2 separate regions of the Homo sapiens genome follow, and region 2 is linked to region 1. Evidence: fine-mapped expression QTL. A gene starts in region 1. The other region holds a variant in brackets. All regions are shown on one strand. Distances are from middle to middle.

Region 1 (4,390 bases):
CAGGGAGGAAAGGGTGGCTGTGCATCTAATTCCTCACTCTTCCTGCTCCGAGTTTAGGGCTCCCCTCGGAGATGTCTCCCTTTATTCTTGCTGCTGCTACCACACCCCATCCCCAGGGAAATGCTGGTTGCTTTTCCTCCTTGCTGGCTCAACAAGACCAAAACGAGAGACTCCCAAGACAAAGGGGAACCCTAGAACGCTTGTCTTGTTCTTTCAGTGCTCTCTCAAGAGTGTCAACCTCACAAATTTGGTGTTTTCCATACAGGTCAGGGCACAAATTGTCTTCAAAGAGCCCTGTGACAGAAGGCCAATGTTCTTACAGAAGGTAAACAAAAGGACTAAGGCTGCTGCCTGAGCCACACTTACTAGTTTGGGAAACAGTATTTGGGAATCTGGTCTCCTGCAAAGCCAGCTTTAATCACCCCCGAACCCTGCAAGGAAAAACAAAGTTGAGCTGCCCACATGCACCACCAGATGAAGCCAGTCCCCCGCAATGGAGAGAGCTGGCTGCCCCGTCAAGGCAGGCCAAGGAGGAAGCCAGGGACCCTGCCAGGATCATTTACAAGTACACCTATGGTTCAAGATTGGGGGCAATTTTGTATCCCCCTGCTCTGGCAACATTTGGCAATGTCTGGCAGCTGGGGAGAGGGGACATGCAGTGGGGGATGCTATTGGCATCTAGTGGGCAGAGGCCAAGGATGCTGCTCAACATCCTACGATGCACAGGCGAGCCTGCACTACCAACAAGGAGCTAGCCCAGAATGTCAATAATATAGAGATAGAGAAACCACGAAGGGCACCTTCCTCTGCACAACTAATGGTTGGCTCCAGCAGGATTCCATAGCACATGCTACTCCCAAAAGCTAGAAGAAACCCCTCTGTGTGGGTCTTTTTTTTTTTTTTTCAACAGCTTCCTTCTCCCCCAAGAACCCAGAAGGCATGGAACATGGACGACCTACAGGGCCTGCTGGAGAAGACCAATGGGTGCATGGGATGACCGGCAGCTTCCCTCAAGTGGCTTCCCAGAGACTACTAGGAGAACTTGGTCCTATCGCTGCCCCCACCTGGAAGCTGGACTTAAGGATCCCCCAAAGAACGGGGCAATTAGAAACCTCCCACCCAGCGAAGGGATAAGCTTCTCAACTCAGTCCCACCACTCTTCATCGCAACCCTCTGAGTCTGCAGCAGAAACAAACATCTCCAAGTTACAGAGGAGGGGATGGAATCCCCAAGGGGCCGAGCGGTAGCCCTTTTAACTTATAAGCCTGTTGATTAGCCTATACGAGTTATTTGCACGTCAAGAAAGGAAGTAGCCTGCTCCTTCCTGCAGCGTCCTGCTGGTGTGACAGCACGTCCCCAAGCTCAGTGCTAACCTCCTTATTAAACATCCCCTGCTGTGACTCAGGGAACCCACATGGGTACTCTAAAACAGTCATTCAGGGACCCCACGGGGTCATGTGGGAGGGAGACAGATCCCAGAAAGAGCACAAGTGAGTCATTACCAAAAACTCCAAGGCCCGCACACCGGACGCACATACCCAGCTAGGGGCAGACTCAAAGATCCCAGCCCTTATCTTCTCCCCATATCAGAGCTCGGAAGCCAGAAATCTTCCTAAGGCAGGTGAAAGCAAGCCGAGCCCCACTGCTGAAGGACAAAGCCACAGGAAGCCTGATGACATCTTTCCTCTGAGGCTTCCAAACGATCACCCCAAATTGCTTGCTGATACTGGGAAGAGTGGCCATGAACTCTCCATTGCTCTGCTGGCTGTGGAATGTTTGCTCAGCACAGGAAGCATTTAAGGAGAAAGTCAAAGTAGCCAAAAGGCAAACCAGATGGTGGTGGACATGTGGGTGACAGAGCATCCTGCATTTGTTGCCTCGGGGTGCAGCCCCAAAGATAAAGCCAGCAGTGTGCAAATGACAAATGCTACCCCACCTCCGCCAGGCAGCCAGAGCCAGGGCCGAAGGACGCGGAAAGGAACTGGTGTGGAAACCTGCCCAGGAACCGCACTCTCAACTGAGAAGAGTCCGGGGCGCGTCCCCGCCCGGCCGCCCGGCTGTCACTCAAGCTCTCCTGAACTTCCCCGCCCGACTCGGGGAGGGGTCGGGGAAGAGGCTCTGCGACGCGGGCGAGGGGGCTCGCCCCATGGCCGGCCTTACAAGGCCAAGAGGGCGCGCGCCCCCGGGGCGAAGCCAGCGGCCCGGCGGGGGCGACGGCCACGCAGTGAGCGGAGGACGCGCCGAGGCGGGCGGGGGTCTCTCCCTGCGCCGCCGCGTGCGCCCCCGGGGGCGGGGCGCCCGCCCTCCCCCTGGCTGCCGGGCCTCACGTTGTCGATGACCACAGGCTGGTTGGCGATGATGTCGTAGGACTCCATGGCCGGGCCGCGCCGGCCCTGCCCAGCAGGCGGGCTGCAGGAGGCACCGGATGGGCGGGCGGGCGGGAGGACCGGGACGGCGGCGGCTCCCGACGCGGCGCCGCTGCCCTCCCTCCCCGAGCCTGCAGCCTACGCGAGCCCCGCGGGGCTTTCTGGAGGGCGGGCCCGGCGGCCAATCATCGCTCCCACCTGGCCCGATTGACAGCAGGTGCCCGGGGCTGGCTGCGCGAAGGGGGCGGGGCCTCCGGAGGCTGGCCAGCCAATTGAGGTCGTCCGGAAAAAAGTGGTCGCGGCGTTGCCAAGGTAGGCTGCGCAGTGTCTGGGATGATGTCATGGCTCCGTCTTAAAGGGGACGCGGGCGGCAGAAAGTGGAGCTGGGCTGGTGTGCGCGCGGCCGGAGTCTGTGGAGCTGGAAATTCACCGGTCCAGGAAGACGTCTTTCCCGCGTCCCAGCACCGGTCCAGAAAGACGTCTTTCCCGCGTCCCAGCACCTCGGGCCACGCTCCTTCGTGAGAGCGCCCTCTCCAAGGAGGCCGGCCCTGGATATTTCACCCAAAATATTTATTTTTTCTTTTTTTCTAGGTAAGGTGTCTTGCTCTGTCGCTCAGGCTGGAAATCTTGGGCTCAAGCGATCCTCCCGCGCCAGCCAGTAGGGGGGACTACAGGCGCGCACCATATTTATTTATTTTTACTGAAATAGTCTCCGTAGAGACTGTTAAAAATTGCCGATGTCGACTATATTGCAAGTCGTCACGGTGGGGTATTGCGAAAAGTTTTCAATTAGCAATAATCGCGCTTCGGATAAACCTCATTGGCCACCATACGGCCACCGCGCAACGCTAGCTAATTAAAAAAAATTTTTTTTGTAGAGAAGGGATCTCGCTATGTTCCCCGGGCTAGCCTCGAACTCCTGAGCTTAAGCGATCCTCCCGCTTAGTCTTTCCAAAGCGTTGGGATTACAGGCGTCAGCTATTGCGCACGGCCCCATAATATTTCCTCGTTGAGCACTGAAGAAAAGATCCTTTTCCTTATAAAAATTACAGTTTCGTGGTATTTTGGTCCTGGCATTTATTGAGCACCTGCTCTGTGCCTGCGGAGCACTTCTGCCCACTTTACATAAGTTATATTAAATCCTTGCAACAATATCAGGTAGTTGTATTATTACTCCCATTTTTCAGTCAGGGTCTTCACACTTTGGTAACCTGCCCAAGATTATTGGGTGTGGAATTGGCATGCAGGTAGCCCCCTGCGGCACTGGAGTCAGCTGCTTCAAGAGTGCAGGATAGTTGAGTTCTACATTTGTTTACCAAACGGATCCATAGTTATTTCCCTGTATATATACCTCTCCCAATGGGTTGTGAGCATAAAATTTGTAAAATTGAAGCGGGTGTGCAGAAATCACAAGTGTACATGTACATTTCAATGAATGATTAAAATGTGGACACACTTGCATAACCACCGAGTTCAAGAAACAATATTGTTGCTGGAAAAGGGGTCCCGATCCAGACCCCAAGGGAGGGTTATTGGATCTTGCCCAGAAGAAATTCAAGGCAAGTTGCAGAGTGCAGTGAGAAGCGATTGTTTATTGAAAGCTACTCAGTTACAGAGTAGGCCATCCTCAGAAAGCAAGAGGGGGAACACACCCTCTTTATATTAAACTCTTCTTATAGAGGGGTCTTATCTATGTAAAAACTAAGCTATGTCTACATGAGGGTGGGCTGACAGCATAACAAAATTTAGTGCTTTTTGATTTAAAGAAAGTTATCCTTGGCATTTTAATGCATAAATACATCAAAGCATGACTCTCTCTCTCTCTCTCTCTCTCTCTCTCTCTCTCTCTCTCTCTCTATATATATATATATATATATATATATATATATATATTTTGTTTTGTTTTGTTTTTTTGAGACAGGGTCTCACCTTGTTGCCCAAGCTGGAGTGCAGTTGCCTGATATCAGCTCACTGCAACCTCCACCTCCCAGGCTCAAGCTATCCTCCTGCCTCAGCCTTCCAAG
Region 2 (4,390 bases), 660 kb before region 1:
TGCACATGTAAATATATACAAATAAAATATTGTAGTGAAATAAAATACCTTTTTTTGTTTGTTAGTTGGTGTTGAGAAAAGCTCTAGCTCTGTTGCCCAGAATGGAATGCAGTGGAACAATCATGGTTCACTGCAGCATCAAACTCCTGGGCTCAAGTGATCCTCCCGCCTCAGCCTCCTAAGTAGCTGGAACCAAAGTGTGTGCCACCATGCCTGGCTAATTTTTTAAAAAAATATTTTTATAGAAATGGAGGGTCTCAGTGTTGTCCAGGCTCATCTTGAACTCCTGGATTCAAGCCTTCCTCCTACCTCAGCCTCCCAAAGTGCTGGGATTAAAGGCATGAGGCACTATGTCTGGCCTTGAAAGGAATTTTTATTCAGTCTTTTCCAGATGTTTTTGCTTTTTTCTGGTGCTAGTCCTAAGAAAATTAAGAAGTCCTAAGAAAACTCTTCCCAACATGTAAAACATGCATTCGTTGGTTATTATGGCAATATTCCCTGCATGAGTAATTTTGGTGGTTAGCTTCTGTCTCATCATTTCTAGAAAAAATTTTATTTCTGTCATAACCCCTAATGCTTAGTAAAAAGGCTCTTTCTTTGTATGTTGGTCTTCTTCTTGCAAATTAGACACCCAGTATCAGCTAGTATTTCATTGTTGAGGACCAGCCCTGTACTGTAGAACTCTGGTTTCAGGGCCGCTACTTGCCATGGTAGCTCATGGCTGTGCTCTTTCTTTCTTCCTTGTTCCACTTCACAACATCTCACACAGGACAAAAACAGAGCAGATATGTTTAGATCCTCTGATGTTAATTGAGGCCACTTTGCTTTTTGAGAAATACAAAATTTGGCCCCAAAACATCCATCCAGATTGTATACAGAGTCTATAGTGACCTCTCCAATATGACCTCCTGCTTTAACAGAATCAGTTCAGGTTCTGGATATTTTTACCAAACTCAAGTTAGCTGCAACTGCTCGAGTTTTCATCAATTCAGATACAAAACCATTTACTTTCTTTGATTTAAACAATAAGAATCACAAAACTAGATCTTACATACAAAGTACACCTCACTAAATTGGGGGATTGGTAAATAAATTAAATTAAAAGTGGTTATTATCTATTGCCATTTATATATTTCCTTGTAATCATTTCCAATCTTGGTACCCATCCCTCATCAGATGGTGCCTGGCGCTCCTCTGTGCAAATGTCCTCTCTTCTCTTTCCACAAAGGCAAAATGCTGTTTTCTATATTTAGGAATACTATCAACTTGTTGTTACTGTTGCCATTACTTCATAGTCACCTACTCATATGTACAGTTTCTAAACTAAAATATGGCAAGAAACTTGTCAATGAAGACAATTCCATGTAAAATTTTAGGCGTGTTTCTTTTTCTGCAGAGTAATTGACTGATTCTCAAATTTTACGGGGCTAGTTTAGGCACAGCTCTTCCCTCTGAGATCTTCATTTTCTGAGAAACTAACTCTGAATCTGTGTCCTGATGAGGATCTGCCGTCACACATACCACAAAGTGCCACCCGTGTCAATCATGAAAGTCCGCACTCAAACTGACACCCAAAATTGATATCACAGCAGAGAAACAAGGACATAGAGCACAACTGAGAGGAAGAGCTGTCTCAGCCATGCAGCCAAATGCTTAGGACCAAATAAGGAATCCACACCTCACACGCTCTGGGTTGGAGAAGATGGGACCGCATTAGACAAGTTGGTTTTT[CGTTT/C]GTTTGTTTGTTTGTTTGTTTGTTTGTGAGATGGACTCTTGCCCTGTTCCCCAGGCTGGAGTGCCCTGGCACCATCTCGGCTCACTGCAACCTCCGCCACCTCTGTTCAAGCAATTCTCCTGCCTTAGCCTCCCAATTGGCTGAGATTACAGGCATCCACCAACACGCCCGGCTAATTTTTTATTTTTATTTCTAGTAGAGACGGGGTTTCACCAGTTGGCCAGGCTGGTCTTGAACTGATGACCTCAGGTGATCCGCCGCTCTCAGCCTTTCAATGTGCTGGGATTACAGGCGTGAGCCACCGCACCTGGCCTAGATAAGTACTTTTGAGGGATAAGATGGAAATATCTGAAATGTTTGGCTAGAGATGTTCTTTATATTGTTTTTCCTTCCATCTCTCTGCCTGTTACTTGTATCCTAGACTAACAACCAAGGCTCCTTTCGATGGAAATTATTCTACTCTCTTAGCTGTTGCCTCTTTCTGCCTATAGAACATCTTGCACACCACTACCTGACCAGATTTTATAACTCAGCATTCAAGTGAAGCTCCTATCATAGTCCAAACTCTTCCTTATGGTATCCTTGCTTTTCAGTACTAATCTGAGATACTCCTGCTGCTTTTCTTCAGAACAAATAGCTCTTTCAATAAAGCTAATGTCAGGAAACTTGCCATGCAAATAAACACAACATATAAATTGAAACATAATCTATTTTATTTTTTACAATAACAAACCTCTTAAGTGCATTTATGTCCTTAATGAAAGAGTTGTTTGCTTTTCCAAGTTCTGCATTTTCTTTTCTAAATTGTTCCCATTTTCCTTATACTTTCTACAATATTCTCATGATGCTTCATTGTTTCTTTTCGGGCCAGCCTCTCTCTCTTCTCCACTGCCTTTTGAAAAGCTGAGCAGTTGGACCTTGGAAAGATGCCCTACCAGCTCCAGGCACAATGCTGATAGAGGATGCCAATCTGGGATGATGGCACATTTTCTGTGACAGCTAGTACGACAACCTGGTTACTGGCTGCTAGCATTCTCTGCCCATCAGTGGTCTCTAGATAGTGCACTGTGTACGTCACCAGCAATAGAGTGGCTCCTCTAGTCCATTATCTTTTCTGCAGTCCCTGTGCACCAAGAGTATCATTACTAGTTAGTTCTAAAGCTCCTCACTGAGTAATGGCAGTGTGCTGCCCACTGATAGTTTGGTAAGCTGGAGCTTGTACCATCACTGCAACAACAGCAGATGACACTGCTTTCTCATCTTCATACTTTTCTCTAATTCCTGGCTTTCCAGGTGCATGGAAGGATACACTACTCAATATTATCCTGTTGGAAATGCTCTTGGACAGTATCTGTCTTACCTGTTAAGAATCAGATATCCATGAGCTGTATTCTGAGAATCTTTACCCTTTATACTTATGAAGATGTGAGTTGCAGAAAAACACTTCTTAAATCTTTGGTAGAATTCTTCTGGACCACTCTCGATATAAGAAGCTTTCCTGAATGACTCCAGCTCTGTGGAAACCATGTCGATCCTCCATGCACGATGCTACAAAAAAAATCACAGAAATTTGTCTTGATCATCCTTTTTGATTCGTACAGGCTTCTTCCTTCCTATTAAAGTGATTGTTTTATTAATAGGATTAGGGTAATGTAGTGTTCTCTGTGCATGTTTCCCGAATATGTTTGGAAATAAACTACAGGTGAGGGAAGAGACTCACAAGGGAATTCCAGGTGGCTGGGATTAAAGAATGGGTGAGTGAATAAATGATCTGTTTCCAAGATTGGATTAAAAGAAAAAATTGCCACTGATCTCTTTTCCACATTGTGATTATATTGCCCTCTTCTCTCAGTTGTCTCTAGATTTTCTGCCTATCTCCCAGATTATTCTGCCTATCTCCCAGAAAATTCAGAAAGAAAGATATTTTCTTTCTGAAATTTTCAAGTAATAAAATAATGAATTTAAGCTCCCCCTATAAAATAAGGTCATGTGTGTTCCTAAAAGTTAGAAAGGTTAGAAGTATAAAATTCCAGTATGTATTAGGTGACTGTCCTCAGCCATTTTAAGGAAACCTCAGAAGAATAACAAGGATAGAAAATTAAATCCTAAAATACTATAAAAATGTGAGATAAATGTAAAAACATTCTGTTAATTCAAATTTTTAAAAATGCCATTTATTTGGACTATGCCCCAACAGACCAAATCAAAATGCAGCTATTCTTGCTAAAGTTCTGCATCCCTGAGTTTTTAATTACATTGTTTACCTGACTTAGTAAAAAATCAGGACGGATGCATAATAGCCAAATGCTAAAACAGGCCAGCTTTAGCCAGCATGATAAGGAAGTCCTCCATTCTTTCATCTATGCAAGAAGAGTAACCTGATGTTAACCATTTCGTTTGTTGTATTATTTTGTTTCTTTGTTCCTGTTCAAGAAACCTTACAAAAACTGGCTCTTGTCCCATATCCAGCACAGAAACTCTCTATTTTTGGATGAGATATTTCCTGATTTTTGAATCACAGTTAGAAGCCAATTTGATCATTTAGCTAAATTTGCAAAAATTTTGTCTTTTCATATCTTCAAATATACAATGAGAAAACCCAAAGAGATATGAGAAAATCTGGCCAAAATCACACACACACACACACACACACAC

Which allele goes with the higher level. Alleles are on the strand shown, and positions count from the first base shown. SD is a standard deviation of normalised expression in the study named.
For the expression in subcutaneous fat of the gene that starts at base 2,529 in region 1, C is the high allele of the variant in region 2 and CGTTT is the other (moderate effect, 0.45 SD a copy in FUSION).

What was found. PIP is the estimated chance that this variant, and not a neighbour inherited with it, causes the effect. A credible set is the group of variants that fine-mapping cannot tell apart.
Region 2: its variant is the best candidate, but not a certain one, in a credible set for the expression of ACTR1B in subcutaneous fat (FUSION, PIP 0.79).

What each region holds. Positions count from the first base shown.
Region 1 is chr2:97,661,516-97,665,905 of GRCh38, forward strand. ACTR1B (actin related protein 1B) reads right to left here and starts at 2,529. Exons shown (of 11, transcript NM_005735.4): 1 at 2,328-2,529; 2 at 367-431. The coding sequence starts at 2,375. LOC124900516 (U4 spliceosomal RNA) reads right to left here and starts at 3,216; the gene lies at 3,076-3,216. It also overlaps a transcript of C2orf92 not described here and the pseudogene RNU4-8P. RefSeq lists enhancers at 991-1,632, 1,598-1,667, 2,708-3,047 and silencers at 2,028-2,087, 2,168-2,627.
Region 2 is chr2:97,005,902-97,010,291 of GRCh38, forward strand. It overlaps the pseudogene LOC100421288. Among named protein-coding and RNA genes, the nearest start is that of FAM178B, 22 kb to the left of the region's middle. The variant CGTTT/C (reference allele first, on the strand shown) is at 1,732.